3 separate regions of the Homo sapiens genome follow, and regions 2 and 3 are each linked to region 1. The links come from fine-mapping of genetic effects on gene expression. A gene starts in region 1. Each other region holds a variant in brackets. All regions are shown on one strand. Distances are from middle to middle. Region 1 holds the start of UNK (unk zinc finger). Region 2 overlaps UNK (unk zinc finger). Region 3 overlaps ITGB4 (integrin subunit beta 4).

Region 1 (8,172 bases):
GCCAAGATGGTCTTGATCTCCTGACCTTGTGATCCACCCGCCTTGGCCTCCCAAAGTGCTGGGATTACAGGCATGGGCCACCGCCCCTGGCCGGTAATTTTTTTTTTTTTTGAAGTGGGGTCTTGCCCAGTCACCCATGCTAGAGTGCAGTGGTGCAGTGACCACGGCTCACTGCAGTTTTGACCTCCTGGACTCAAGCAATCCTTCTGCCCCAGCCTCCCAAAGTGCTAGGATTACAGGCATGAGCCACCATGCCTGACCTTCAGAGAATTACAGTACGTAAGTACAAATACCTCAATATTGACTTGTCACACCAGTGGTCAAGTATCAAACAATGAGAAAAAAATGCACACTTTGAAAAACTAGCTCAGCTTCATCTCAATCTCTGGTATCAAATTCCTGTTATTATTTCAGCCTTCTTAATTTTTTTTTTTTTTTTTTTGAGACGGACTCTTGCTCTGCTGCCAGGCTGGAGTGCAGTGGCGCGATCTCAGCTCCATGCAACCTCCACTTCCTGGGTTCAAGCGATTCCCCTGCCTCAGCCTCCCAAGTAGCTGGGATTGTAGGCATGCGCCACCATGCCCGGCTAATTTTTTGTATTTTAGTAGAGACAGGGTTTCCCATGTTGGCCAAGATGGTCTCGATCTCTGGACCTCGTGGTCCGCCTGCCTCTCGCCTCCCAAAGTGCTGGGATTACAGGCGTGAGCCACCGCGCTCAGCCAGCCTTCTTAATCTTAACGTGCACATTATGTATTTAATCATCATATACCTAAATTTACTGTGATAACCAACTTTGATTTCTGCCTTTGACTCAAAATTTGAGGTAGGGAAAAATTACATGATTTTATTAATGCCATGCTGAGAAGAGAAACCTAGGTGGATTCTCATGCTTTATTCTCAAACCTGTGTCAAGTTAAGAAACAGGGGACTGTTTAGACACACATATGAGGCTGTCAAATTCTCTGGGATGCAAACAGAAAAATAACTTGTCATCTTTTTTTTTTTTTTTTTTTTGACTTTGGCCTAGAAGAGGAATAGGCTTTCTAAATTGGTCCCCCACTTTGTGTTCCACGATTTTTTTTTTTTTTTTTTTTTTTGAGATGGAGTCTTGCTCTGTCGCCTAGACTGGAGTGCAGTGGCGCCATCTCGGCTCACTGCAAGCTCCGCCTCCCAGGTTCACACCATTCTCCTGCCTCAGCCTCCTGAGTAGCTGGGACTACAGGCGCCCGCCACCACGCCTGGCTAATTTTTTTGTATTTTTAGTAGAGACAAGGGTTTCACCATGTTAGCCAAGATGGTCTCGATCTCCTGACCTTGTGATCCGCCCACCTCGGCCTCCCAAAGTGCTGGGATTACAGGCTTCAGCCACCACTCCCTGCTGTGTTTCACGATTTTTCTAGGTTATACAGAATCCTGTCATTTCCATGCCTTTGTGTGGATGGACAGTCATTTTCTTTCCAGCTTTGCTGATTATTAGAAACTAAAGCCACCCGGAGAAAAAAGGTATGGATATACATTTATCCATTTAAGTATGATTCGTGGAAACAGGAGTCCGGGCGCAGTGGCTCACGCCTGTAATCCCAGCTCTTGGGAGGCTGAGGAGGGTGGATCGTGAGGTCAGGAGTTCGAGACCAGCCTGACCAACATGGTGAAACCACGTCTCTACTAAAACTACAAAAATCAGGTGGGCGTGGTGGCACACACCTGTAATCCCAGCTACTCAGGAGGCTGAGGCAGGAGAATTGCTTGAACCTGGGAGGCAGAGGTTGCAGTGAGCCGAAATCACACCACTGCACTCCAGCCTGGGCAACAGAGCAAGACTCTGCCTCAAAAAAAAAAAAAAAAAAAAAAAAAAAAGGCTGTCTCTCTTACTTCGTAGTCATGCAGGTATGTTTCACTTTTTCCAGATTGGTACAACGGAGGAAAAGCAACACAGGAAATGAGGAAGAATAAAAAATGTTTATACAATGAAAAAAAGCAGAAGAAAACAAAACAAACAAAACCCAACAGTGAATGTGATGTAGTCTTGTAGGCTACTGTCCTAGTTCCTCTTGTTACCAACTTGCTGAGTAACTTTGTGCAAGTTACTTAGCTTCTCTGGGTTTCGGTTTCCTCTTTTGTAAATTAAGCAGTTTGGATGATATCATCTCCCAACTCCACCAGTACACACTTATTCTGAAGCTCATGATATACATCTATTATTTAAAATCCAGTGCTGTGAACTCTATTTCTTCAGTCAGATCACACTTGAGTATTGTGAGGCTAACATAAACCAAGTAACTTGCGTTTAATCATAGGATTAAAGCAATATACTACAACTTTTATTTGTCCTTTTGTAATTTTTCATTTTCAAACGCCCCTAGTGGCTAAACGATTTAGCCTGTTTAGGAAAAACCAGTTTCTCAACTCTGTGATGTGGCTTCTGATGTGAGGGAACTTGGAGCTAAATAAAATAAGTATGTGTCACTCAAACATTAACGATTTTCCATTAGCCCCACCACCCTTCATCCCTAAGGTTATTTGGAATGTGTTTCTTTAATGAGATAATCATTTGTTAATATAATCCCATCTAAGAAAATATAAATCAAAACCAGTGGATTTGAAATAGATTCAATATGAAAAACCAAATTAAATGACAACGGTTAAAATATCTACGGAGAACATTCTAAAACTCACAGAAACAAATGCCTAGGTCTGGGGCATCTGGCTTATTTTATAAAGTGAAGAACTTTGCTTGACTGGTGGGAAGCAGAGAGGGGAAAGATAATGTCCCAAGTAAAAAGGCTGACGTCCAGACAAGAAAACTAGAGTGGATAAATACGGGCACGCCCTACTCAAACCCAGGCCTTTCCTCTGGACCCTGTGATGCTTCTCAACACTGGCAACTTGTCAGTGTACCTCAGAGACTATTCTAGGCGGAGATTAAATTCGTCCTTGGCCCTTAATGTACTGGAAACAAGTTGGTCAGGCCAGGTGTCAGGCTGAGAAAGCACACAAGTCGTGGAGTTCCAGGTGTCGAGTTTGGCAAAGGTAAATGAAGCGCCTCGGCAAAGGCGCGGGAACTGTAGCGTGCGGTGTACCTCCTCCTTAGCAAAGCTTTCTCAATGCCTCTTAGGTTAGACCCGCCGCAGGGATGAAGGGGTTGCTGGCGGATTGCAGGTGCCTGCAGCACAGGGCCCAGAACTAAGAACCGACAACACAGATTCTTAAGCCCTGCTTGGAGCACTGCTCTGAGCTGGCATTAGAACCGAACCTAGCTGTACTAAGTATAAAGGCAAAGTAGTTATGACACTGTTGGCAGTGAAATTATACTTGGAACTCTTTCGCAGAAATCGCTAGGGCCTCCCTAGCTCTGGGCCCCTTCTCCTCCAGGCGCTCCAGTTTCATGGAAAGGCTTCCCTATGAAACTGAAAACGCGCTGGTAAGAAGGAGAAATGCGACCGGACTGCAATTCCCAGAAGCCGTCGCAGGCCCTCAGCATCCGGGACACTAGCAGCAAGGATCCCTGGGTATTGTGGTCCTGTGCTTTGCCAGCAACCCTCTGCCGACGGTAAAATTCCAGCCGGACATAGAACCACAACTCCCAGCAACCCCTGCTGCCGTGTGGGGGGTCTTCACGTTCTCGTGGCGCGGCGCAGGCGCACTGGGTCCTCGGCGCGGACCGCGCAGACTGAATAATAAAAGGGGAGCGGCGAAGAGGCAGGAAGACAAGACCATGTCGAAGGGCCCCGGGCCCGGCGGCTCCGCAGCTTCCTCGGCGCCCCCGGCCGCTACCGCTCAGGTGCTGCAGGCACAGCCCGAGAAACCGCAGCACTACACGTACGTAGAGCCCCCCCCCCCCCGCCGCGCGCGCACGCCTGACGTCAGCGGCCAGCGTGAGTCACGCGCGCAGGGAGAGCGCGAGGCGGCCTCTTCCTCCCCCCCTTCCTCCTCCGGCCCGGCCCAGACCGGTTCCAACCTGCTGGGGCCGGTCCCAACTGCCTCCAACTGCCACCAACCTCTGGTCGGGCTGTGGGGCGGGAAACTCGGTCCCGGCCGCCGAGTGGGGAAGGCGGGAGCTCGGGATGCAGAGTGCACTCTCCCTAGGCCAGGCCTTCGAGGCCTAACTGTTCCTCAGACCATAAAACCACAGTAGTAGGCTCCTTTGGGGCAGTGAGAAGTCCAAGACACAACCAAGAGGAGTTCCGTGGGGTCCAGCCCCAGAACCCACCTATGAATGATGATTAACGTGAAGTCCTGTCAGGAGATTCCGTGCAGTTTGCGCAGGAAGCCTTTTGTGTCCCTAAGGCTCGTAGGTTGTCCACGAGGGCCACACTTGCTTGAATTCACAGTCGACGTAGATAAACATGCAAAGATGGAAACGTGTCCGTGCGTGCCCATGACCGTTTCCCTCGCGGGCTGTGCGGAGCCTGAGTCTGGGAGCCCGAAGGTGATGGGTTCCAAGTATGTCTGCAGGCTCAGCAGAAATGTAGCATTAGAGGGAGCCCCAAATACTGACACTACAGGAGTCCAGCAGGATGGGAAAACCTCTTCCTGGAAGTCTTGCATCTGTGTGCTTTTAGGTCGCTGTCTTCATTTCCTTCAAGCCACGTTAAGCATTCCCTAGAGTTAGGTGATGTGGGAGAAAGATGAATAAGGGGCGGTTTCTCCTGTTAAGCAAAATGTTGCTTTCCATTTTCCCTGATGCTCTGTGAATGCCTCTCATCCCCATGGGCTCCTGAGTGATGTGCATGTTTAAAAGGATCCCCAGCTGCGAGAGGTTTTGGAACCTGGGGGGTTGAACAGCTCTTAAGTTGTTCAGTGAACGAAGAACAGAATCATCTGTTGGAGTAGAAAGAACTCAAACCAGTCAGGAGGAACTCTTGTTATAGAAGACCTTGGGAAACTGTTCTGGGGTTGGGGAACATTGGTTATAGGAAGTGTATGGTTTCTTTGTGGGATTCTTTGTTGTTGGCTGAAATCATTTAAGCTTCTTGACTACAGTCTGACTCACGTTAACCATTCCTTTTCTGATATGGACATTGCTTTCCTGGTCCTTTCTTACTGGAGATCTTTCGCAGTCTTTCCATTGATTTTGGTGAGATGTTCTTAGCTCAAAGACTACTGATGAGTTGAATGGTGTAGTCTTGATTTTCGAATCTGGAAACTTCACGTAATTGGAACTTCTTTATAATCTCTGGTTGCTCAGATCACTGTTTTTAGCAAAATAAACACATTTTGAGTCACGAGAGTCTTGGCTTCAGCAACTTGTGTTTCTGTGTTGTGTTGTCATTGAGCATACTATGGAATCTGTAATAGAAAGGCTTTCTTATTTTGGAATTGACAGGTGAAACAAGTGAACAGCTGATTAAATGTCAGTATCTGAGTCTTTGTCCTCTTGATGCTCATTTGTTTAAAACCTGTCTTTCCTGCCGGGCGTGGTAGCTCTCACGCCTGTAATCACAGCATTTTGGGAGGCCGAGGCGGATCGCATGAGGTCAGGAGTGAAGAGACCAGCCTGCCCAATATGGCAAAACCCCGTCTCTACTAAAAATACAAAAAATTAGCTGGGTGTGCTGGCGGGCGCCTGTAATCCCAGCTACTCAGGAGGCTGAGGCAGGAGAATCGCTTGAACCCGGGAGGCGGAGGTGGCAGTGAGCCGAGATCGTGCCACTGCACTCCAGCCTGAGCGACAAGAGCAAAACTCCGTCTCAAAAAACAGAAACAAAAACAAAAAAAAAGCCTGCCTTTCCATTCCTTGTGGGTAAGTATAGAGTAATGGGACCTGGCTCTTGAGGTGTCTTAGGAAATCAACAGGAGTAGGTGAAATAGCCAAGCTTGATGGGAGGTTGTAGGTGTTCTTATCTCTTTGTCTGTTCATATGTATGTGTGTTTTTATATTTGTATTTCCAAAAATCAGAGATAGAAATCAGTGGTCTTTCTTGCTAGACTTACTAGCATTCAGAAGCTGTGATGACCTGGAAAACTTCATCCCCTAGTCCTCCTAGGGCTGAGGTGCAGGGAGCATGAGGACACATATGATGGAACCAGCACACTTGCTGGCTCTGATTTTTCTTTTTCTTTTTTTTAAGATAGGGTCTCTGTCATCCAGGCTATAGTGCAGTGTCACCATCTCAGCTCACTGTAGCCTCGACCTCCCTGGCTCAAGTGATCCTCCCACCTCAGTCTCCTGAGTAGCTGGGACTACAGGCACACCTGGATACATTTTTTTGGTATTTTTTGTAGAGACGTGATTTTGCCATGTTGCCCAGCCTAGTCTCGAACTCCTGTGATCGAGCAGGCGCAAGCAATCTACTGTTGGGCCTTGGCCTCCCAAAGTGCTGGGAGGCCACCACACCCAGCTTTTTTTTTTTTTTTCCTCTTCTTAAAAGAGACATGGGCAGGGTGCGGTTGCTCACACCTGTAATCCCAGCACTTTGGGAGCCTGAGGTGGGTGGATCACTTGAGGTCAGGAGTTCGAGACCAACCTGGCCAACATGGAAACCCCGTCTCTACTAAAAATACAAAAAATTAGTCAGGCCTGGTGGCACACACCTGCAGTCCCAGCTACTCAGGAGGCTGAGGCAGGAGAATCGCTTGAACCCAGGAGGCAGAGGTTGCAGTGAGCAGAGATTGTGCCACTGCACTCCAACCTGGGTGACAGAGTGAGACTCGGTCCAAAAAAAAAAAAAAAGAGAGACGTGATCTCTCTGTGTTAACCAGGTGGACTTGAATTCCTGGGCTCAAGCAGTCCTGCCTTAGCCTCCTGAGTAGCTGGGACTACAGGCACATACCACCATACCTGCTTCCCTCCACCCCCATAAGGTGAATTCATTTATTGCCCTTGGGAGTTAGGGGGCGGGAGCATTTTGATTTTGATTTTAAATGAAAATTTGAGCTGCTTGGGAGGTAAACAGTGGGTACACATGGACATACGGAGTGGAATAATAATTGATCATTGATAATAATTGATCCCATTTTGAATACAGAGATAGACCCCTTTTGAATATTTGTAAGTTTTTGCCTGTCAATTTTTTCTTTTTTTTTTTTTTGGAGACAAAGTCTCACTCTGTTGCCCAAGCTGGAGTGCAGTGGCGTGATCTCAGTTTACTGCAACCTCCACCTCCCGGGTTTAAGCAATTCTCCTGCTTCAGCTTCCTAAGTAGCTGGGACTGCAGGCACACGCCACCATGGCTGGCTAATTTTTGTATTTTTAGTAGAGACAGGGTTTCACTGTGTTGGCCAGGCTGATCTCGAACTCCTAACCTCGTGATCCGCCCACCTTGGCCTCCCAAACTGCTGGGATTACAGGCGTGAGCCACTGTTCCCGTCTGCCTGTCAAATTTTTTACCTTTTTAAACTTTTATTTATTTATTTAGTTGTATTTTTAGTAGAGATGGGGTTTCACCATGTTGGTCAGGCTGGTCTTGAACTCCTGACCTCGTGATCTGCCCGCCTCGGCCTCCCAAAGTGCTGGGATTACAGGTGTGAGCCACCGCGCCCAGCCACTTTTATTTTTATTTTTAATTTTTTTTTTAAATTTATTTTTGTCACCCAGGTTGGTTGGACAGAGCAAGAGACAGGATCTTGCTCTGTCACCCAGGCTGGTGTACAGTGGCATGGGAAGGCGTGAGCCTGAGAAGGTGTGAGCCACCTCACCTGGACTTTCTTATACATTAATTAATTTTGTATAGTTTTATACCTGATGTTATTTGAAATTAGGTAACATGCTGTAGTCTTTGCAATAATCCAGAGACACTTGTGTGATAATTGAGTCTCACTCACCATAACAGTAATCTTGGCAAACACAGTTGAATACACTAAAAGCAAAAAATTATGTTGCCATTGGTTTCCCTTTCTTGCCCTTCATTCTTGTGCTGAAATTAAAGTTCTTAGAGTTTGAGCCCTCCTTTTCCTAAACCAAGAGGATTATTCATAACATAGTTTAAAGGATAATTTTGTTGATTTTTTTTTTCTAAACTCTTGAATAATCTTGCTTTAAGGGAAACTTTGGAATAATCCTTTCAGCAAATTGGTGTAGCAGGCACTTGTGCTGGACTTAGGAATCCAGTCCTTTTAGAAAACAGTTATGTCAGAAGTTCCTTTATTGTACAGCTCCAAGTATTTGCTTAGCACTTAGTAAAACGATAATGTATATGTATTATTATTCTTCCAATACAAGAACCACATGAC
Region 2 (8,172 bases), 31 kb after region 1:
TGGCACTCTGGTTCTTGCCCCCTCATGCCCCCTCTCCACCCTCTCTGTTCTTTCCTCTCCTCCCAGGGAGCTTCAGGCCATGGAGGCCTTGCAGAATGGCCAGACCACGGTAGAGGGGAGCATAGAGGGCCAGTCGGCTGGGGCTGCGAGCCATGCCATGATAGAAAAGATCCTCAGCGAGGAGCCTCGGTGGCAAGGTACAGGCATCCACACCTCGGCCGCGCCCTCCCTATAATCCTGCTCATAGCTGCCCTGGGGATTTGGCTCACCACCACCTACTGCCTGCTCTAGCCGAGGCCCCGACCTGGCCCGCATCCCACCCTACACCCACCATTCAAAAGGCGCCTCTAGGGGCGTTTTCCCTGACACATCATGTTCCCAAGATCCCTCCAGGCTTTCACATGTGCACAGGCACGTACATAAGCGCACATGCAAATGTTTTCCGCCCTGCAAGAGTGCCCTTTCACCCTGTGAGCTGTGAGTGTCTCTCTGATGGACAGCATCTGTTGTCCTTGCTGCACCTGGGGCTGTCCCATGGCCTGGGAGGAGGGGCCCTACTCACATCTGGCAGGGGCCTCCTGTCTTGAACTCCTTCCCAGTGGCTTCTCCTTCCCTCCACTCCAGTCCTGCTAGTCTTGGGGTGCTCCAGCTCCTCTCACCTGACCCCTGCCCTCTGGCCCCCTGTGCAGAGACTGCTTATGTGCTGGGGAACTATAAGACGGAGCCTTGCAAGAAGCCCCCGCGGCTGTGCCGCCAAGGCTATGCCTGTCCCTACTACCACAACAGCAAGGACCGGCGGCGGAGCCCCCGGAAGCACAAATACAGGTCCTTAGGCCCCAGGAGGCCAGCCACGGGAGGGAGGAGTGGCAGGGAAGGGGTCAGGCAGAGGCTGCTCCCACTGGCTCTCCGGGAGGAGGGGAGGCTGGTCCTGGGGATGACAGGATCGCAAGCCCAGGGCCCAGGGGAGGGCATAGTGAGGATAGCTGGACAGTAGGAGCCCAGCTTCACCTCCTGCATGAATGAGGACCCTGGTCAGACCGTCTCTGAGGCTCCACCGCTCCTGATCCTGAGGGGAATGTGTTGAATGAGGACCAGGCCACAGCGTGGACAGTGTGGTTGTAGCTCCAGCCTGACCCTACTTGGGCTAGTGGGAGGGCCTGGCTGAGGGGAATCAAACAGTATCCTTTGTGGTGATTCGGCCAGGCTGGGTCAGAGAAAGAGCTTGGCTTGTGGCACCAGCAAGGCCCTGACTCTGCAGCTGGTCTTTTCCATTTCTGTGCTCATGCCTATGAGGCTGGGTCCAGGTGGCACCTGCTAGGCTCCGATCTCACCTTCTCCTTTCTCCATCTGACCCCACCCTCTTGTTGGCCAGGTCGTCTCCATGTCCAAACGTCAAGCACGGGGATGAGTGGGGAGACCCTGGCAAGTGTGAGAACGGAGACGCCTGCCAGTACTGCCACACCCGCACCGAGCAGCAGTTCCACCCCGAGGTGGGCCCCACAGCAGGGTGGGGGGGTGGCTTTGGGAAGTAAGGAGAGAGGCAGGCAGGATCAGTGGAGATGTTGGCAGAACCCATCCTGATGCCATCCTGGAAGAGGGACTTGTGGCCACCAGCTCTCCCCTGGCAGTGCCTAGAGGATCCCTGCATGCTGAATTTGGCATCTTCTCCTATTCTGAGCCCACGCTCACCAAGCAGCCCTCTGCTTCCAGTTCTGTGTCCCCCAGGCCTCCTGACAGGGCAGGTGTAGATGGAGTGTGGCGACCTGGCCACTCTGGGCTTTCCACCACTCATGGTGCTTGTAATCCAGTGACATCAGGATTGAAAAAATAGGGCCAGGCACGGTGGCTTATGCCTATAATTCCAGCACTCTGGGAGGCCGAGGTGGGTGCATCACTTGAGGTCAGGAGTTTGAGACTACCCTGCAACATGCTATCTCTACTAAATGTACAAAAATTAGCCAGATTTGGTGGTGAGCGCCTGTAACCCCAGCTACTCGGGAGGCTGAGGTGGGAGGATCGCTTGAACCCGGGAGGCGGAAGTTGCAGTGAGCCAAGATCGCACCACTGCACTCCAGCCTGGGTGACAGAGCGAGACTCCATCAAAAAAAAAAAAAAAAAAAAAAGGATTGAAAAAAAGTAAGCTCCTTCCTGTTGCCCTGTCTCCTATCAGGGCCTAGATTATCAGCAACCTCCCTAACACAGTTCCCTTGCCCTCTGGCCCCAAGAGGTAGCCTGGGCCATATCTGTGTGCCTAGGTCTTGTCTGGGGTTCAGAGAGGCACCTGCAGTCCCTGCCCTTGGTGTTCCATGGAAGCCAGGACACCCTGAGGTAGACACGCGGACAGAAACTACCTTATGTAGCTGCAGACAGCAGAGTGGAAGGTTACTTATATAGGTCACAACCCAGGGTATCCTGACAGGGTTCACATTGGCAGGGGTAGTTGCCTGAGATTGTGGCTCCCTTAATGCCCAGGAGGCACGCTTGGAGGCACAGACCTGGCCATGCCCGTGAGTGGAGAGTCACTGGGGGATCCCTTTGGGAGGGCTGGTGGGACCTGTGGCCCCAGAACGGAGGCTGTCAGTGACAATGGGGAGTGGTGGTGGGCTGCCTCAGGAGTTTGAGTAAGAAGCTGGTAGGGAGAGACATAGTGGAGGGGAGGGGAGGGGCCGGGAACACAGGGCAAGAGATGACTAAGCCAGCGCACTCATGCTGGAGGAAGGGGAGCCTGCCCGGCCTTCCCTCAGGGCCTGAGCCTGACTTGCCTGTGCTCTGCCCTCCAGATCTACAAGTCCACCAAGTGCAACGACATGCAGCAGTCGGGCAGCTGTCCCCGAGGACCCTTCTGCGCCTTTGCCCACGTAGAACGTATGCTGTTCCCATTGCCCCGGGGCAGTGCCCTCTCCCACCCCTCCCTCGCCTGGCTAGCTCAGGCTTAGGCCGGGGATGGCCCCTGGCAGTATGCCCTGCACAGGAGTTCTGGCCTGCCAGCAGCAGGCCTTGTCCCCACTGGAAGCTCCATTCCCCCACCTTTCTGGAAGTAGCCTTGAAGGCCTAGAGCTTCCAAAGTAGTGAGATAGAGACTGCAGGGATTGTCCGCCTGGTTGAGCACTCATGGTTCCAGGGAGGGTTGAGGCACTGTGCCTCCCATGGCTGACTTGGCAAATCCCACCAGCCACCCCATGTCATACCCATGACAGACATCACTAATGGAACATGGAGCTCTTCTCTGCTGAGTCCTGCTCAGGCCTCTAGAGCAGAGCTAGCCAGTCAGAATATAGTGCAATCCCCATATGTCATTTTAAAGTTAAAATATTTAAGCATGTTAACAAAAATAGCAAAATATGAAAATAAGCTGGGCATGGTGGCACACGCCTGTAATCCCAACTACTCGGGAGGCTGAGGCATGAGAATCACTTGAACCCAGGAAGCAGAGGTTGCAGTGAGCCGAGATCATGCCGCCGCACTCCAGCCTGGGCAACAGGGCGAGACTCTGTCTTAAAAAAAAAAAAAAAAAAAAATTAAAAAAGAATTAAACATTGGAAAATATGTTGTTAAATTAATTTTAATAACATATTTGTATTTAGCCCAACATAAAAGGTTATTTCAATAATCAATATACAAAAATATCAAGACATTTCACCTTTTTTTGTACTAAGTCTATGAGATCTGATAGCATTTTAATGCCTACGGGATATTTCCATTCAGACCAGCCTGTTTCAGGGGCTCAGTAGCCACATGTGGCTTTCGGCTGCCTTGTGGGACAGTGTGGGTCTGGATCCTCAGCATGATACTGTAGGCCGCCACCAGTCTCAGAGACAGAGCTCCAGTTTGTACCTGTTAACACCTCTTTCCACCCCAAGATACTGCCCTGGGTCTCCTTAACCTCTTTCCAGGCTCAGGCCCTATCTCTGAGATGAGAATGGAAAATAAATCGAGGGCCCTGGGCGGGAGAAGCATATTCTTGATGCAGAGGTGGTCCCCGGCCATGGGCATTGGGACCGCCTGGCTGAGACGGCATAAGGAAGTGATTCAGGCTTTGGAGTTGTACAGATCAGCGTTCAAGACCCAGCTCCTCTGTGTTTTAGCTCTGTCACTTTGGTGGGTTTACCTTACCTCTCTGAGCCTCAGTTTTCTTATTTATAAAATGGAGACCATATTACTGGTATCTTCTGGTCACCATGAAGATTCACAATTACTGCAAAGTGCTGGCACAGTGCCTGGCACACAGTAAATGCACAGACATGGTGTTACTAGAGATGTCGTAGGAACCTTCCCTTTATGTGCAGGGGGATTTGTGGTCTCCTTTGGAAGGGACCCAGGAGCATTTTTGGAGGGACAGAGCTGGCTGGGGCCTGCTGACCCCTGCCCCTGACTCTTGCAGAGCCACCCCTGAGTGACGACCTGCAGCCTTCCTCAGCTGTGTCCAGCCCCACCCAGCCAGGTCCTGTCCTGTACATGCCATCTGCCGCCGGAGACTCGGTGCCTGTGAGCCCCTCCAGCCCGCATGCCCCTGACCTCAGTGCCGTACGTGTCCATCCTGGGGAGTGGGTGGGCACCATGCCTGACAGAGCCAATACTTGCCTCCTAGGCCCTTTCAGCCTGGGCTTGGGAGACCATCCTGGTATTTGTCCTCAGGCCAGGGGGATCTGTCTTTTCCATCTCAGCATTCTTCGTCAAAAGTCCAGGCCCGGGGGTGGGGTAGGGCAGTCCCCAGAGCCTGTGCTGATGAGCCTGTAGGACTGGTGGCAGGGACAAAGCCTGAGGTCACTCCCCTTTCCTTCGTGAGCTTCGGGCTCCCCGAGTGGTCACTGCTGCTCGTTGGCAGATGAAAGTGGAACTGAGCCCCTTGAAGACTCCCTCTGGAGAGGGTGGAGGATGGGCCACGCACCAGCCTGCGCTGTGCCCACGGGCCCACTCCCTCCCCTCCT[T/C]CTCCGCAGCTCCTCTGTAGAAACAGCAGCCTAGGCAGCCCGTCTAACCTCTGCGGCTCCCCACCGGGCTCCATCAGGAAGCCCCCAAACCTGGAGGGCATCGTCTTCCCTGGGGAGTCTGGCCTGGCCCCTGGCAGCTATAAGAAGGCTCCCGGCTTCGAGAGGGAAGACCAGGTGGGAGCCGAGTACCTGAAAAATTTCAAATGCCAGGTAAGGGATGAGGGAGGCAGCAGTGAGGTTAGCCTTCTCCTGCGTGGGGCAAGAGAATCTTGGAGGAGTGTCTTGGTCCAGCTACGGGGAGGATGACTGGGAGCTAGGACTCCACTGTCCTCGGCCTCTTCAGGACTGAACAGAGGGAGCAGTGTCAGCCCATTTGCAGCTGAAGACAGGAAGGCTGGGGAGGCTGCATAGCCTCCCCTGGGCTGCAGAGCTGGTTAGGAGAGGAGCCAGATCCCGCCTGGGTGCGGTCCTTCGGCTGCCCTGAACTGCCTTCATGGAAAGACAGGGCCTGGGGAAGCAGGACACAGGGGTCCCTAACTGGGCCTGGAGAGATACCTTCTGGGCTTACATGAGGCCTAGTGTCACCGGGAGGAGAAGGGCAGCTCCCTGCTTAGGGTAGGGGAAGGGAGTAGGGGGTGGGGAGGAAGAAGGGGGTGTGTGCATGCATGTGAAGAGGGGTTGCATGTCTGCCACCACCTGCCCCCTGGTACCTGCAGCCTCAGGGTCAGATGGACTCAGGGACCCCCCAGCACCACATTCATCCACTCCCTGAATTTTCTCTCTCAGGCCAAATTAAAACCCCACTCATTAGAGCCCAGGAGTCAAGAGCAGCCTCTGCTTCAGCCCAAACAGGTATAGAGCTCTCAGCCCCCTTCCTCCCCTCTGCTGTGGACAGGAGTGGCCCAGAACCCCAGGAGGCTTCGGGGAGTGGGAGGCACCACTTTTCCCAAAAGCTGAGGGCAGGACTAAAGTGGGGTCCCAGCCACAAATCCAGAGAGGGTAGGGGGTCAGGCCCTGGAGCCCCTCACCTCCTAGACTCAGTGGAGAAGGTGTTCCTGGAGCCTCTGCACTCTGCCAGGCCCTGTACTCGCTTCTCTCTTCCCTGCTACAGGACTGTAGGGGCGAATGGGCCTGGCAGCCTCCGCACCTCCAACTCCATGCTCTCAACAAGGTGTCGGGTGTGCCGGGGCCCATGTGGGCATGGGGGCACCCGGACTAGAGCTAGCACGGGCCATTTCCCTTGCCCCCAGCCCCTCTCCAGCCTCTCGTCCTGGCCTCCGTATGCAGGCCTACCATTGCTTCTCCTCTTCCCTCTCTCGTTGCAGGACATGCTGGGCATCCTCCCCGCAGGCAGCCCCCTGACCTCAAGCATCTCTTCTAGTATCACCTCCAGCCTGGCAGCTACCCCCCCTAGCCCAGTGGGCACCAGCAGCGTCCCCGGCATGAATGCAAACGCTCTGCCCTTCTACCCCACCAGCGACACGGTAGAGTCAGTCATAGGTAACTAGGCCATTTCTGTTTGAAAGCCCAGGACTGGGTCTGGGGTCAGAGACCCCCCAGTCTCTGAAGCGAGTCTCAAATCAGCACACCAGACCCCTTAGACATCTGTCTTCGGAAAATCAGGGGATGGGCACTCTGAGTCCTTTGAGCTAAAGGGGAAATGACCCCAAGGTGTAGGGCCAGGACTGACCCTTAGAGCTCCTTTGTGCAAATTAGAAAGAGGTGCCTTTTCCCCTTGGTGAGTACAGTCTCACCCCAAGACGTGTTGTTCAGTCCCCACTCATCTCACTGGTGTCCTTGTGTAGTGAATGGCCAGCACGACGTTCTCAGAATCCCTGGTGCTAGAAGTTGGTGCTCCTTTCTTTCAGTACTCATTTCTAGGTGCCCGCTTTGTGCCAGGTCCTGTGGCAGGCACTGAGGAGACAGATGACAACATGCTGCTCCTGCCCTCTAGAGGGAAACTTCCCACCCAGTGGACATTTGTCAAGCACCTGCTATACACCAGCCACTGAGTGCCCAGAGACCCGCCCACCCCCACTGATCCCGGGGCTGAGACCCTTGAGTTGTAACATCAGGGGACAAGACCCTTGTCCGAGGCAGGGACCCTGGATGGGGATGTGATTTCTCCTGGAAGTATCAAAGAAGATTCAGAAAGGAGAGGCATTTGGGTTGGACATGACTGGCAGACGGTGTCAGAAGTCAGGAGTCAGGATTGGCATAGGAAGCAGCTGAAGGAAGGGCACAGGGGCTTGGGAGAATACGGACCCAGCGTAGCATGGGCGTGAAGATGCAGCGTGGGCAGTAGACGAGGTGGTCAGGGTCAGATAGTCCCTCGGGAGGTCACATCCCACTCTTCTCTGTCCCTAGAGTCTGCTTTGGATGACCTGGACCTGAATGAGTTTGGCGTGGCCGCCCTGGAGAAGACTTTCGATAACAGCACAGTGCCCCACCCAGGAAGCATCACCATCGGTACTGGGTGTGGGTGGGCAGGGCAGCCTGGAGGACTCCTCGGGTTCCTGCCTGGCTCAGGCCCCTTGCTCTGTGTGGCCCGCCTGGCTTCCGCTGCCCTCACCCAGCCCGTCCTCCCCGGGCCTCTCTTGCAGGCGGCAGCTTGCTGCAGAGCTCTGCACCCGTGAACATCCCCGGCTCCTTGGGCAGCTCTGCCTCCTTCCACTCAGCATCCCCGTCCCCTCCCGTCAGCCTCTCCTCGCATTTCCTGCAGCAGCCCCAGGGCCACCTGAGTCAGTCGGAAAACACATTTTTGGGAACCTCAGCATCACATGGATCTTTGGGTAAGAGAGGGAGTGGTTCACTCAGGAGAACTGGGGCAGGAACCTGCGCCTTTAGGAGGTGCCTCTGGCCACCCCATCTACGGCATATCAGCTAGGCTGGGGGTTAGGGCAGAGGCCTTGGGCGAGGAGGCAGAGTCAGATTCCTGTCTGTGTGACCCTGGACAAGTGATTGAGCCTCTCTGCCTTAGTTTCCTCTGCTGTGAAATGGGTATAACGGCAGCATCCACCTCCTAACGTTGTGAGCATTGAATGGAGTAATGGGGCTGAAGTGCTAGGCACGAGGCCAGTGCAGGTGAGAGCAGGGGTCTCAGTTGCCAGGGCTGGGCCTGGTCTCTTTCACAGCATGGTTCTGTTCTGCCCAGTCACCCCAGGCTCCGAGAGGCTGGCTCGCACCAGCCAGGTTCACAGGGGACCAAGGGAGAAGCCAGACAGGTTAACCCCTGGCTTCGGGT
Region 3 (8,172 bases), 26 kb before region 1:
AACCCTGCCTCTCCCACTAACCCTTCCTCTCTTCCAGCTCCTGGAGCCTCGGGCTTCTGTCTGCTGTCCCCACCGCCCATTCTCCAACATACACACACGCATGCACACATGCACGCACACACGTGCACACGCATGCACACATGTACACAGACATGCATGCGCACACGTACACACATGCATGCACACTCCCTGCTCCTCTCACTCTTGTTTTGTCCTGCCCTAGGCCTCCCTCCCATCTGGGAACACGGGAGGAGCAGGCTTCCGCTGTCCTGGGCCCTGGGGTCCCGGAGTCGGGCTCAGATGAAAGGGTTCCCCCCTTCCAGGGGCCCACGAGACTCTATAATCCTGGCTGGGAGGCCAGCAGCGCCCTCCTGGGGCCCAGGTAGTACAGGGGTGGCCATCCTGTCTCCACAGCTGTCCTGCTCCATCTGTCATCCAGCCACCATAGCAGCCGCCAGCTGTGCCCACTGCTTCCCCTCCATTCCATCCACAGGACCCCCGCCTGCCCACAGGCGCTAACCACCTGCCCTACCATCAGTGCTGATGCCTAACTCTGCCTCTGCCCTCCCAGGGGGCGGGGCTGGGGCTGGGGCAGGAGAGGGGCCAGGCCAGCTGAGCAGTTGAGGGGGTGGGGCTGGCAGACTCACGGGGCTCACTCTCTTTTGGCACAAGCAGGGCCTGCACCCTGCTGGAGGATGTGCGGTAGGTGCTGGGCAGCCTGGACAGGGTGTTGCAGGGTGAGTGAGTTGTCCAGCCAGCGGTCAGTGTAGACATGCCAGCTGAGGGAGGGAGGTCAGGGGGCAGCACTGTGACTCCCACTGAGACCCTAGCCCCTGCATCTCTGGCTGACTGCGGCCTCCTGTCCCCAGACTCTCGCCTGACTGCTGGTGTGCCCGACACGCCCACCCGCCTGGTGTTCTCTGCCCTGGGGCCCACATCTCTCAGAGTGAGCTGGCAGGAGCCGCGGTGCGAGCGGCCGCTGCAGGGCTACAGTGTGGAGTACCAGCTGCTGAACGGCGGTGAGGCATGGTGGCTGCCAGGCTGCGGGGTGCAGCCCTGCAAGGCCTGGCCCCAGTGTGACACATAGGGTACCTCAGCTGTGTCAGGAACCCACCCAAGTCCCTTGAGCGCTAAAGCCCCCATCCAGCCTGAGAGGGTCTCCCACCCCATTCTCCACCCCACTTCTTTGCCTCCCCTCTTCTGAGGTCTCACCCACCTCCCTGGGCCTCTCTCCTGGTCATTCTCTGCTAGGTTTTGCCTAACAAGGCCCCTTTGGGCTGGGATCCTAGGGCCTCTGCTGGCCTGAGATGCCTTTGGGGGAACAAGGAAGTGGCACTTCCCTGGGCAGGCACATTCAAAGCAGCATGACCAGGATGCAGGATGTTGCCTAAACATGAGTGGGATTACAGGCTCCACTCTTGTATAGTACACAATCTGAACAACCAGCCATACCATACTGTACCCAACCTGTACCCAAACCACAGCTAGTCCTGGGTGGGTGATAACTAGGTCTCGATGGCAGCTTAGGGACGAGGAGGATCAGGCCAGGGGTGGGAGTAACACTGCACTACTGTGTGCCCCCACCTGATCCCCCCAGGTGAGCTGCATCGGCTCAACATCCCCAACCCTGCCCAGACCTCGGTGGTGGTGGAAGACCTCCTGCCCAACCACTCCTACGTGTTCCGCGTGCGGGCCCAGAGCCAGGAAGGCTGGGGCCGAGAGCGTGAGGGTGTCATCACCATTGAATCCCAGGTGCACCCGCAGAGCCCACTGTGTCCCCTGCCAGGTGAGTTGCCTCCCCCAGCCCCAGAGCTGCCCCCATCATGCCCACCACCCACCCACAGGCTGATGCTCTTCCTCTACTGCCCCCAGGCTCCGCCTTCACTTTGAGCACTCCCAGTGCCCCAGGCCCGCTGGTGTTCACTGCCCTGAGCCCAGACTCGCTGCAGCTGAGCTGGGAGCGGCCACGGAGGCCCAATGGGGATATCGTCGGCTACCTGGTGACCTGTGAGATGGCCCAAGGAGGAGGTGCTGCCCACCCCGGGGGCAGGAGTGGCCAGGGGAGGGGTAAAGAGGGGGCCGCAGACGCTGAAGGCATCTTCCCTGCTCAGGGCCAGCCACCGCATTCCGGGTGGATGGAGACAGCCCCGAGAGCCGGCTGACCGTGCCGGGCCTCAGCGAGAACGTGCCCTACAAGTTCAAGGTGCAGGCCAGGACCACTGAGGGCTTCGGGCCAGAGCGCGAGGGCATCATCACCATAGAGTCCCAGGATGGAGGTAGGCACCTGTCCTTTCCTTCACCCCCACCCCTCCTCGGGCCGTGCCTCCTTCTGGCACCACCCTCTGACTGGCCTATCTGCCCACCCCAGGACCCTTCCCGCAGCTGGGCAGCCGTGCCGGGCTCTTCCAGCACCCGCTGCAAAGCGAGTACAGCAGCATCACCACCACCCACACCAGCGCCACCGAGCCCTTCCTAGTGGGTGAGCACTGAGGGCTAGGGGATCCCGGCTCTCCTGGGACAGGGAGCTAGCAGAGGGAGAAGGGCAGACCCCAAGCCAGGTCATCTAATGCCTCCTCCTCCACAGATGGGCTGACCCTGGGGGCCCAGCACCTGGAGGCAGGCGGCTCCCTCACCCGGCATGTGACCCAGGAGTTTGTGAGCCGGACACTGACCACCAGCGGAACCCTTAGCACCCACATGGACCAACAGTTCTTCCAAACTTGACCGCACCCTGCCCCACCCCCGCCACGTCCCACTAGGCGTCCTCCCGACTCCTCTCCCGGAGCCTCCTCAGCTACTCCATCCTTGCACCCCTGGGGGCCCAGCCCACCCGCATGCACAGAGCAGGGGCTAGGTGTCTCCTGGGAGGCATGAAGGGGGCAAGGTCCGTCCTCTGTGGGCCCAAACCTATTTGTAACCAAAGAGCTGGGAGCAGCACAAGGACCCAGCCTTTGTTCTGCACTTAATAAATGGTTTTGCTACTGCTAGGCCCTGCCTTGCCCATTCTTCTGGGGCCTGAGAGGTGCTCCCCTAGGGTAGGGGAGCGGTTCTGACATCCCCCATTCTCTGACACCCAAGCATACACCCACCTCTAGAGGAGGCAGGTACCACATTGGAGGCACAAGTTTATTGAGCACCCGGATATGGAAGATGGCACCGGGCACAGAGCCGTGGGACTGGCCTGCAGGCCCCGCACCCTCACCGTGTGCTGTCCTGGGGGTGCCTCACAAGCACAGCACCTTGGCTCCATCGGCTGCTTGAGAGAGGTAGAAGGTGGCAGTCCCGCCGTAGTGCTCCTGTAAGAGGCGGGCTGGGGGTGAGTGGCAGGGCCCCGGGAAGCTGCCGCTCCTGCCCGCCCAGGCCCTGGTGCCCGCCCACCTGGATGTGCCGCATGGCGTGGGGAGCAGCGGAGGCCTCCAGCAGTGTCACCGTGCAGCCACCGAAGCCACCGCCCGTCATGCGGCTGCCATAAACCCCAGGCACAGCAAGCGCAGCCTCCACCAGCTGGTCCAGCTCTGGGCAGCTCACCTCATAGTCGTCTCTGCAGAGAGGATATTGAAGGGGTGGGCCTGGGCCGGCCTGTGCCCGGCAGGAGCGGGGCGCCCAGAGGGCCTCACCTGAGTGAGCGGTGGCTCTCCACCATGAGGCGGCCAAAGGCTCTGTAGTCGCCACGTCTCAGGGCGGCCGCTGCCTGGGCCGTGCGCCGAATCTCCCCCACCACGTGCCGGGCCCGCCGGAAGCCCTCTTTGCTCACCAGGTCCCTGGCAGCTGGGGAGGAAAGAGGAGTCAGCAGCCGCCTTCTCACTGCCTGGGGCCCCGACGCCTGTGAGGACCAGCAGGCGGTGATGGCAGTGGCCCTGGCTGGACGGTGAAGGGTGGAAGGCCGCGGGGGCAGGGCAGCCTGGCTCTCTCAGAC[G/A]TGGGTCTGAAGAGCCCCTTTATCACAGTGCCTCCTCCCCCGACTGTAAAATGGGACACCTTGGTCCTTCAGGGAGCAGTGAGGGTTGAAACACTCCATGCTTTCCAAGGTGAGTGCTGCCCTCAAGAGGCCACCACAGAGCAGGAGGAGAAGAAGTTCTGCTGAGCCACATGGAGCCTCCAGGGCTGGGGCTCCAGAAGAGGGGGCAGAAGCAGCCAGGGACCAGCAGGCTGTCCCATCTGACTGGAGCTGAGGCTGGAGGGGTACCTGGGTCAGTACCAGTACTGACTCAGTGTACTGCGCCCGGCCAAACCCGCAGGTTTAAGGGGGAAGGTTGTTAGGGTAGGTGGCATGGCGGGATGGAGGGGCAAGTAGATTCAAAGGACTGAGAAATGAATGGGTGGGCGCGGTGGCTCACACCTGTAATCCCAGCACTTTGGGAAGCTGAGGCAGGCAGATTGCCTGAGGTCAGGAGCTCGAGACCAGCCTGGCCAACATGGCGAAACCCCGTCTCTACTAAAAATACAAAAGTTAGCCGGGCATCGTGGCAGGCGCCTGTAATCGCAGCTACTCAGGAGGCTGAGGCAGGAGAATTGCTTGAACCTGGGAGGCGGAGGTTGCAGTGAGTGGAGATCATGCCACTGCACTTCAGCCTGGGTGACAGAGTGAGGCTCCCTCTCAAAAAAAAAGAAAGAAAGAAAGAAAGAAATGAATGGAAATGAGACAGTGGGTGGTGTTTTAGGAGGGAAGAAAACTGAGCATGTCTTGGAGGCTGAGGGAAGGAGCCAGGCAGCCAGGCAGGGGATGGAAGGAGAGGGATTGCGCTTCTAGGGCAGGACTCTGGAGGAGGCAGGGTGAGCTGCTCCTATGCAGAAGGAGACCTGGAGGAGGGGCAAGGACAGGCTGGGGTGGGGAGGAGGGACCAACTTGTTCCAGTGTGAAAACCTTGGCCAAGGGCATCTGCACAGAGCAGGCAGGGCAGGTCTGAGCACTGCTCTGGAGAACGTGACACAGTTCACAAAGGAAAAGGACAGGGAGGTCCCTCGGAGCTGTCTAGTGTCCCTGAGATAGGCACACCTACACTGCCAGGAAGGAACAACTCAGTGTGGGCAGCACGGCCAGCCAGTCAAGAGCATGGGCCCTGGAGCTAATCTGTCCAGATGGGGTTCAGATCCCAGCACTGCCTCTCACTGTAGATTCCCCCATCAAAAATATGACAACTATGGTAGCAGAATGTGCTTTACAGAGTTTTGGAGGGAATTAAATGAGCTAATATTGATAATGACCTTAAAACTGTCCAATAGACTACCTTCCTGGCCATGTGTAGCAGGAGCCTTAAGGATACTTGTATCTTTTTTGTTTTGGAGACAGGATCTCACTTTGAGGCCCAGGCTGGAGTGCCATGGTGCAATCACAGCTCACTGCAGTCTCAACCTCCTGGGCTCAATTGATCCTCCCACCCCAGCCTCCTAAGTAGCTAGGACTACAGGCACACACCACCACACCTGGCTAATTTTTGTATTTCTTTAGAGATGGGGTTTTGCCATGTTGCCCAGGCTGGTCTCGAATTCCTGAGCTCAATGAATCTGCCCACCTTGGCCTCCTAAAGTGCTGGGATTACAGGCACAGACGTGAGCCACCGCACCCAGCCTACAATACTTGTGTCTCTTGACTCTGTAATCCTACTCCTAAGAATCCATTTCTAAGAAACTATTAAGAGAATGCAGATAGGCCAGGTGTAGTGGCTCACGCCTGTGCCTGTAATCCCAGCACTTTGGGAGGCCAAGGCAGGCGGATCACTTGAGGTCAGGAGTCCAAGACCAGCCTGGCCAATATAGTGAAACCCAGTGTCCACTAAAAATACAAAAAAAAAAAAAAATTAACTCGCTCTGGTGGCACACGCCTGTAGTCCCAGCCACTCCAGAGGCTGAGGCAGGAGAATTGCTTGAACCCTGAAGACGGAGGTTGCAGTGAGCCGAGATCACGCCACTGCGCTCCAGCCTGGGCTACAGAGCAAGACTCAGTCTCAAAGAAAAAAAAGAGAATGCAGATAAACCGGGTGCCTTTGGTTGCAGCTACCCAGGAGACTAGGTGAGAAGATTACTTGAGCCCAAGAGTTCAGGTCCAGCCTGGGCAACTTAGCAGAACCCATCTCTTTAAAAAATAAAAAAGATGGCCAGGCACAGTGGTTCATGCCTGTCATCCCAGTACTTTGGGAGGCTGAGGTGGGCAGATCACCAGGTCAGGAGTTCACGACCAGCCCGACCAACATGGTAAAACCTCATCTCTACTAAAAATACAAAAATTAGCCAGGTGTGGTGGCACATGCCTCTAATCCTAGCTACTCAGGAGGCTGAGGCAGGAGAATCACTTGAACCTGGGAGGCAGAGGTTGCAGTGAGCCGAGATCGTGCCACTGCACTGCAGCCTGGGTGACAGAGCAAGACTCTGTCTCAAATAAATAAATAAATAAATAATAAAAAAGATAAATAAAAAAAGTTAATCACAGTGTGAGGTGTATCAGAAAATAGTTAAGTAAATGACAGAGCACCTGAATGCTAAAATATTGTGGAGCTTTAAAGAGCCACACGGAGGCCAGGTGCAGTGGCTCACACATGTAATCCTAGCACATTGGGAGGCTGAGGCGGGCAGATCACGAGATCAGGAGTTCGAGACCAGCCTGGCCAACATGAAACCCCGTCTCTACTAAAAATATAAAAATTGGCTGGGCGTGGTGGTGGGTGCCAGTAATCCCAGCTACTCAGGAAGCTAAGGCAGGAGAATCATTTGAACCCAGGAGGTGGAGGATGCAGTGAGCCGAGATTGCGCCACTGCACTCCAGCCTGGGCAACAGGGCAAGCCTCCACCTCACCAAAAAAAAAAGAAAAAAAAAAAAAAAGAGCCACACCGAGATATGCCTTTCATGGCATAAGATAAGATAGGGTTCTGGGTTCTGAGATTATGTTTAGTTTAAAAAAAAAAAAAAAAGAGACCGGCACTATGGCTCACGCCTGTAATCCCAGCACTTTGGAAGGCTGAGGCGGGAGGATCACCTGAGGTCAGGCGTTTGAGACCAGCCTGGCCAACATGGTGAAACCCCAGTCTCTACTAGAACTATAAAAAATGTGCCAGGCGTAGTGGCGGGCGCCTGTAGTCCCAGCTACTCGGGAGGCTGAGGCAGGAGAATCACTTGAACCCGGGAGGCAGAGGTTACAGTGAGCTGAGATCGCACCATTGCACTCCAGCATGGGTGACAAGACCGAAACTCTGTGTCCAAAAAAAAAACACGGCAAATGGGCTGGGCGCAGTGGCTCATGCCTATAATCCCAACACTTTGGGAGGCCAAGGCAGGAGGACCACTTGAGGCCAGAGTTCAGGATCAGCCTGGGCAACACTGCAAGACCGTCTTTACAAAGATAAAAATTAGCCGGGCATGGTGGCACACCTGTAATCTCAGCTACTTGGAAGGCTGAGCTGGGAGGATCCCTTGAGCTCAAGAGTTCAAGTTTGCAGTAAGCTATGATCACACCACTACACTCCAGCTTGGGCAACAGAATGAGACCCTGCCTCTTAAAAAAAAGGGGGTGGGGGGGGAAAGTGATGATATATTACATATACTCAGCTTTGAAGACAGATGTGGAAAAATACTGAAAGGAAACGTGAAAATGTCAGCAGTGGCTATCTCTGGGTAGTGGCCTTATAGCTTATTATTTTCTACTTTGTACTTTTCTACATTTTCCACAATGGAAACATGATTTTTCTGATTAGATAAGACCATTTTAGGATTTCAAGCAGCCCTGCTGAGATTGGAACCCTGGGTGCGCAGTGTTTGAAGGGACTGGGGAGAGCATGGCAGAAGGCCCTGGAGATCGGGGTCCCAGGCAGGGTCAAGGCCACACTGAGGCGCCAGCAGGGAGCACAGCCGCCTCCAGGATAGAGCACCCTGGCAGTTCTCACCCTCTAGCTCTTCCAGTTGTACCTCCCGGAGGCTTTCCTTGCCCAGCGCCCGGGCCACTTCTTCACATTGGCGCCGCCGCACAGGGTACTCGCTGGAGGCCAGGGAGTGGCGGACATTAGAGTTGGTGATGAGCACGGCCAGCTTGGGGTCCGAGAGTGGCACCAGGCTGGTCTCCAAGGACCTGGGGTGGAGTTACAATGGGGGAGATGACGAGGCCAAGCGTGTGCTTGCTGCGCCAGGCAGTGGGCACACTCCCACCCAGGAGCTGCTGAGTGCAGGGCGGGAGGGGACGAGGGGAG

Evidence for each region.
Region 2: its variant is fine-mapped to the expression of UNK in whole blood (TOPMed, PIP 0.99).
Region 3: its variant is fine-mapped to the expression of UNK in whole blood (INTERVAL, PIP above 0.99).

What each region holds. Positions count from the first base shown.
Region 1 is chr17:75,781,166-75,789,337 of GRCh38, forward strand. UNK (unk zinc finger) reads left to right here and starts at 3,641. Exons shown (of 16, transcript NM_001080419.3): 1 at 3,641-3,819. The coding sequence starts at 3,716. MIR4738 (microRNA 4738) reads right to left here and starts at 3,442; the gene lies at 3,356-3,442. RefSeq lists enhancers at 1,993-2,172, 3,735-4,313, 3,903-4,302, 4,314-4,891 and a silencer at 3,703-3,842.
Region 2 is chr17:75,812,389-75,820,560 of GRCh38, forward strand. It overlaps UNK (unk zinc finger), which reads left to right. Exons shown (of 16, transcript NM_001080419.3): 4 at 67-197; 5 at 690-825; 6 at 1,373-1,490; 7 at 2,781-2,865; 8 at 4,382-4,524; 9 at 4,938-5,138; 10 at 5,715-5,780; 11 at 6,254-6,428; 12 at 7,296-7,397; 13 at 7,532-7,720. Among named protein-coding and RNA genes, the nearest start is that of UNC13D, 28 kb to the right of the region's middle. RefSeq lists enhancers at 2,228-2,729, 2,730-3,229, 4,014-4,515, 4,516-5,015. The variant T/C (reference allele first, on the strand shown) is at 4,929.
Region 3 is chr17:75,754,832-75,763,003 of GRCh38, forward strand. It overlaps ITGB4 (integrin subunit beta 4), which reads left to right. Exons shown (of 40, transcript NM_000213.5): 35 at 870-1,019; 36 at 1,598-1,786; 37 at 1,873-2,028; 38 at 2,112-2,276; 39 at 2,369-2,479; 40 at 2,585-2,987. The coding sequence ends at 2,724. GALK1 (galactokinase 1) reads right to left here. Exons shown (of 8, transcript NM_000154.2): 5 at 7,873-8,054; 6 at 3,618-3,768; 7 at 3,379-3,541; 8 at 3,063-3,296. The coding sequence ends at 3,225. Among named protein-coding and RNA genes, the nearest start is that of GALK1, 6.3 kb to the right of the region's middle. RefSeq lists a silencer at 556-725 and enhancers at 3,224-3,750, 3,751-4,277. The variant G/A (reference allele first, on the strand shown) is at 3,917.